2 linked regions of the Homo sapiens genome follow. The protein of the gene in region 1 purifies or fractionates together with the protein of each later gene. This does not show direct contact. Each region holds a gene or a part of one and is shown on either strand. Other genes may lie near its edges.

Region 1 (2,895 bases):
AGGAAGGTGTCAGCCCTGTGCCAAGGTTTCCCCACCTGCTTCCCCCAAATCCTCAGGCACTGACTGTCTCCAGCTGGAGCTGGGTACTCCCGGCAGCCTGCCCCCGGCTGGCGGGCACCAGCTCCTGGCAGAGGGGCTGGTGTGTAATTAGAAGCTCCACAAACTCCCTAATTGCCAGTTCTTCTCCCAAACCAGGAGGCTGGCGCTGTTCTGAGCCGCCCTGTTGCCGGCTGCCTGAGGCATAGAGAGAAGAAGAAGCCAGGAGCAGAGCCAGGCTGGCGTGGAGGTGTCCCGGGGGAGGGCTGGCGAGGTCAGAGGGGACCACGGGGTGGAGGATGCCTGGCGAGCGGCCAGAGGCCAAACGTGGCACTGCGCGGGCTGCCACCCCTGCTGGGCCCAGGGTTCCTCAGCACAGTCCACCCTGCGGCCGCCTCCCTGCCTTCCCCACCATCCTCACTTGTCCCCACCCATGCCCAGAACGGTGACATCAAACCAGCCAGGCCCATTCATTCTTTATTCAGGTGGCATAAAAATCACTACAAAAACCTTACAAAAGAGCCTTAAGGAGCTCATGGGATCCTTCCCTGCCTCGGTTCCTGAGCTCCCGGGCAGAGGAGGGAGACAGGAGAGGAAGGAAGGGAAATGCTGGCAGTGTTGGGATCTCGAGGAGCCGTGGGAAGTCTGGCGTGACAAGGCACAGGGGGTAGGATGGAGGCTGATGGACTCTCGGCAGGTTAGGCCACAGCCAGGCTGTGCCAGACACGAGTTCCACGCGGGGCTGAGGACAACGCTTCGCCTCCCGAGCCACCACCAGGGCCCGTCTCTCCCCACCCTAGCCTAGGTGTCCCGGGACAAGTCCAAAGGCAGCCCTCTCCCCCTCCCTTTTTCTCTGGTAAACAAAAGTCGGGGTGTCCCAGCTGACGTGGGGAGCAGCTAACCTGTCTCCTGGCAGAACTAGAAGCACCTCCCTCCTGCCCAGGCCCCGGTGCAGGACACCCTCTGAGCCTGTTTGGAAGAAAGATGAGGGTCAGGCTCCCGGCTCCCCGATGCCTGCCCTCCTCCCAGCCGCGCCCCCCCCCCACCCTAAACTCCCCAAGAGGTGTTGGGAAAGAATGGCCTCTCTCAGACTGCCCCCGGCCCCTGCCCCAGTGCCACAAAGCCGGTTGGAAAGAGTCACATGAGTGGAGAGGCTGGTCCAGGCAGGGACTCTGGATGCCACAGCCACGGCCCCTCACTTGGGGCTGCCAAACTGGGGGTAATCCTCCTCCATGGGGGGCACAAGTTTTAAGTCAGGGCCGAAAAGCTTGTCTCCGCGGGGGAAGCCTTTCAGGCTCTGGAGGAAGTCCTTGTTGCCCGGGGAATCCTGCTGTTCCTTGAGCTCCCGCGGTGCACTGGGGTTGGGGTTCCTCACGCTGCCCACGAAGAGGGGAAGGCCTGTGGTGTCCTCGAAGATGAAGAAGAGGAAGGGGCGGTTCACGCTGAAGGAGGACAGGGACATGCGGGACATGGCAATGCTGGTGGCCGCCGCCGCCTCCACGCCGACCTCGCTGAGCTCCAGGGTGGACTGATGCTGCACGCCGGACACCACCAGGCTCTGCTCGGAGATCCCACGCAGGTCTGGGGCCTGGAACAACTCCTGCAGGCCTGCCCAGGGCCAGAGATGGCTGGTCAGAGCTGCCCTTGGCCTCACAGGCTCCTGGAGCTGCTTGGGAGGGTGTCTGAGATCCTGGCCAGGGAACAGCTTGAACTCACAGATACCTGCTTCATTCCTATCCGGTTTCCAAGACTCAGCTTAAACACCACCTCCTCCAGGAAGCCTTCCCTGATCCCCAGCTCTAAAGTCCAACCAAGGTACATTTTCAGTGTTCTCCCAGGTGAGCTGGAGAGAAGCCCTCTCTGTCTTATCGCTTATGCTGTAGTAAGTATGTGATTGCTCGTCTGCCCACCCCATTAGACTCAGCTGTTTGTACATGGTGGGCTCCCGGTACCTGGTACAGTGCCTGGAATACAGCAGCTGCTTAGCAAATGGCTGAAGGATAGATGCTTTATTTATTTATTTTAGTTATTATAATTTTTTTTTGAGATGGAGTCTCACTCTGTCATCCAGGCTGGAGTACAGTGGCGTGATCTCGGCTCACTGCAACCTCCTCCTCCCAGGTTCAAGCAATTCTCCTGCCTCAGCCTCCCAAGTAGCTGGGATTATGGGCATGCGCCACCACGCCCGGCTAATTTTTGTATTTTTAGTGGAGACGGGTTTGGCCATGTTGGCCAGGCTGGTCTCAAACTCATGACCTCAGGTGATCCACCCTCTTTGGCCTCCCAAAGTGCTAGGATTACAGACGTGAGCCACCATGCCCGGCCTTTATTTTTATTTTTGAGACAAGGTCTTAGTTCTTTTGCTGAGGCTGGAGTGCAGTGGCACAATTATGGCTCACTGCAGCCTCAGCCACCTGGGGTCAAGAGGGCCTCCCACCTCAACCTCCCCAGTAGCATGCACCACACCTGGCTAATTTTTGTATTTTTTGTAGGGACGGAGTTTCAATGTGTTGCACAGGCTGGTGTCGGACTCCCGGGCTCAAGCAATCCACCCACTTCAGCTTCCCAACGTGCTGGGATTACAGGCATGAGCCACTCCACCCAGCATTTCTTTAACAGTGTGACACCCCAGCTTCTCCTCCTTCCCCTTCCAGGGAAGCCAGCGAGGCTCACATGCCATCCCAGGCTCTCTACCCAGACTCTCCTTGCAATGCGAGGTCTTGGGCAGCAAAGCAGAGCCCCATTCCCCGGGCCACCCCAACTTCCTCTAGGACAGAGGGTCTGGGGGCTCATATTCAACCCTCTCCCCGCTCCCGAAGCCCTGGAAAAGAGCAGGACACAGGACAGCTCTGACTCAGC
Region 2 (3,500 bases), on another chromosome or scaffold:
AAAAAAAAAAAAAAAGAAAGAAGAAAGAAGAAAGGAAAAAGAAAAAAAGGCAGCGGGGGCGCGGTGGCTCACGCCTGTAATCCCACCACTTTGGGAGGCCAAGGCGAGCGGATCACGAGGTCAGGAGATCGAGACCATCCTGGCTAACACGGTGAAACCCCGTCTCTACTAAAAATACAAAAATTAGCCGGGCGTGGTGGCAGGCGCCTGTAGTCCCAGCTACTCAGGAGGCTGAGACATGAGAATGGCATGAACCCGGGAGGCGGAGCTTGTAGTGAGCCGAGATCACACCACTGCACTCCAGCCTGGGCGACAGAGCGAGACTCCATCTTAAAAGAAAAAAAAAAAAAGGACATGCTACAGCATGGATGCACCTTGAAGACATTTGCAAAGTGAAACAAACCAGTCGCAAAAGAAGAAACACTGTCTCATTCCACTTCTAGGATGTATGTAGAGCAGTCAGGTTCATACAGACAGAAAGTAGCAGCGTGGCTGCTGGGGAAAAGGGGAATGGGGAGTTATTCTTTAATGGCTACAGAGTTTCAGTTAGGGGTGATGGAGAAGTTCTGGAGATGGGCGGTGGTGACGGCCGGCCGCACAGCAATATGACGTGCTTAATGCCACTGAACTGTGCACTGAACATCGTTAAGGTGGTAAATTTTGTGTTATATATATTTTGCAACAATAAAAAATATGTAGTTTCTAGAATCCTCTTCTAGATGCATGTCTGGCGTTTCTGCCGCGGGGCTGGCACTGGAGGAAGCCAGACAGGACAACATTGCGGCTTATCCTCCTCTGTTGCCATCATGGACCTCTCGCACCCCGTGATCAAGCTGTTTTTTCTCTCCTTCCAGAATTTAAGGGACGCTGTGAAGCAATCATGGATGCAATGAAGAGAGGGCTCTGCTGTGTGCTGCTGCTGTGTGGAGCAGTCTTCGTTTCGCCCAGCCAGGTTGGTGTGCAGGATCCCTGTGTCCCGCCCCTCAAGGCTGTGATGCTTCCGGAGGCTCCAGGGGTCTGTGTCCATCTGGGCCACGGAGGTTGGAATGCTGTCAGGGAGCAGAGAGGCACAGGGACGAGGGGCTGGCATTGCTGTGGAGCACACAGCACACACTCCCTTCTGTACAGCAAACTCTGTATTTGGGGGCCCAGTGTGTAGCTGGGCCCTAGGCACTTATTTTGACCTGAGTAAGCGGAATTAACATGCCACTCCCTGCCTGTGACTGCCTTTTTTTGCAGCTGTTTTTAAAGAATGTATTCAAATTAATCCATAAAGTACAGTTGTCCCTCATATCTATGGGGTATTTGTTCCAGGACCCCCAAGGATACCAAAATCCAGGGATACTCAAGTTCCTCATATAGAATGGTGTAGAGTTTGCATATCCTATGCACACCCTCCTGTATACTTTAAATCATCTCTAAATTACTTATAATACCTAGTACAATGTTAATGCTATGTAAATGGTTGTTATAAGGTATTTTTTAATTTGTGTTATTTTTATTGTTGTATTATTTATTTATATATTTTTTGGAAACAGGGTCTCACTCTGTCACCCAGGCTGGAGTGCAATGGCACAATCATAGCTCACTGCAGCACCAAACTCCTAGGCTTAAGCCTTGGCCTCCCAAAACTCTGGGGTTACAGGTGTGAGCCACAAGCCCAGCTTATATTATTATTTTTTATTTTTCTGTTTTGGTTGAATCCACAGATATGGAACCTGCAGATATACAAAGTGGACTGTATTTATAAAAGACAATGCAGGACAGGGCACAGTGACTCACACCTGTAATCTCAGCACTTTGGGAGGCCGAGGTGGGAGGATCGCTTGAGCCCAGGAGTTGGAGACCAGTCTGGGCAATATAGTGAGATGCTGTCTCTACAAAAAATTTAAAAATTAGCCGGGTGTACTAGTATGCACCTGTGGTCCCAGCTACTCAGGAGGCTGAGGCGGGAGGATCGCTTAAGTTCAGGAGGTTGGGACTTCAGTGAGATATGATTACGCCAATGCACTCCAGCCTGGGTGACAAACTGAGATCCTGTCTCAAAAAAAAAAAAAAAAAAAGAAAAAGGCAATGCAAGTGCCATGAGCCACAGCAGAGGCAAACTGCCCTCATGGTGCCTACTCTCTAGCTGAGATGGAAGCGCTACACACACTCTCTGAAAATGCCTAGCAATAAAGGGCCTCACGGAAGTCCAAACTAACCACACCTCTCCCACAGGACCCTACAGCGGGGAGAGCCAGGTGACTGCGTGGAGTAGACAGCCAGCTGCAACTCCATTGCCCAATATGGTGGCCACTTACCTTGTGCAACTGTTTAAATTTAAAATAATTAAAGTTAAAAATTGTTTCTCAGTCCCACTGGCCACATTCAAAGCACTCGGTGGCCCTGTGTGGCTTCTGTCGTGGACAGCACAGACAGAAAACATTTCCACCAAGCAGAAAGCTCTTCTGGACAGAGCCAGTCAGGAAGGAGAGGAAGAATTGGACTAGAAGGCAGGAGATGGACTTTCACTTGGGCCAGTTACCCGAGGGGGTCTCTGAGCAGAGGTATCTGGCCGGCAGGTTCACATGGGCTTCTGGGTTGGCCGCCTTTACTCTTAGTACACCTGGCATGTGCTGATCCTTCCTCCACCTCTGGTTTCTTCGCAGGAAATCCATGCCCGATTCAGAAGAGGAGCCAGATCTTACCAAGGTCGGGTGAAGCTGAGGGGTGCATGGGGTCATCAGGGAGGGAGGCAGGGCGGGGTGCAGGGTGCATCACCCACCCACCACCTGCCTTCTTCCACCCACCACCTGCCTACGGTGTGACAGTGCCATTGCAGCATGATTCTACAGAGATGCCTGTGTCGGCACCATTCTCCCATCAGCTGCGGCCACTGGGCGGGTTCTGATTCTGAGGGGAGCAGAAACAGGTGTTCCCCCCCAAGGAGCCAGGCTGTCAGGGATCACAACCTAGCGGGGGCTGGGGGGGGCGGCCACTGGCCCAAGGTCCTGGTTATACAGATCAAAAGGCAGAGCCCAGGAGAGAGCAAGTGGCTTGCCCAGGGTCACACAGCCGCCAGCAGCACGGCCAGGGCAGTCACAGCCGAGGCCAGGCCCATGCTCTGGGTCTCATCCTAGGCTGTGATCCCACCACAGTGCACCGGCAGCTTTGGTAACAACATCCCTGTGTATCCATTTCCCTCTGTTGATCCAACCGGGATGTCCCAACTGGGATGTCCCACCCAGGCAACCCCTCGACATGGTGGGGTCTCTAAGTCCACATCTAGAGTTGACTCTAGAAGGCTGAGGAATGCGAGGCCCAGCTTCAGGTCCAAAACTACCAACTTAGGCCCTCGATTTCCCTCCTTCACGACCCAGTTCCTTCGAGTCTGGAAGACTCTGCAATACCCTTTGTGAAGGTGTTAAAAAGGGTGACTCACTCCCCAGAGCGAGTCACACCTGGACTCTTAATGCCTTCGTTGTTGGATGGCATCCTGCTTCCTACCAGGTTATCCT

Evidence for each region. The genes of interacting proteins can lie anywhere in the genome.
Region 2: the proteins of SERPINF2 (region 1) and PLAT purify together in Homo sapiens (affinity purification with mass spectrometry; one large-scale study listed by BioGRID and IntAct). This does not show direct contact.

Annotation. Positions count from the first base shown.
Region 1 is NC_000017.11:1,752,871-1,755,765, reverse strand, and holds the end of SERPINF2 (alpha-2-antiplasmin isoform a precursor), read right to left. Parts: intron 1,645-2,895; coding exon 1,232-1,644; 3' UTR 501-1,231; downstream 1-500.
Region 2 is NC_000008.11:42,190,566-42,194,065, reverse strand, and holds part of PLAT (tissue-type plasminogen activator isoform 1 preproprotein), read left to right. Parts: intron 1-854; 5' UTR 855-880; coding exon 881-952; intron 953-2,651; coding exon 2,652-2,694; intron 2,695-3,500. UniProt on the Homo sapiens protein: Converts the abundant, but inactive, zymogen plasminogen to plasmin by hydrolyzing a single Arg-Val bond in plasminogen.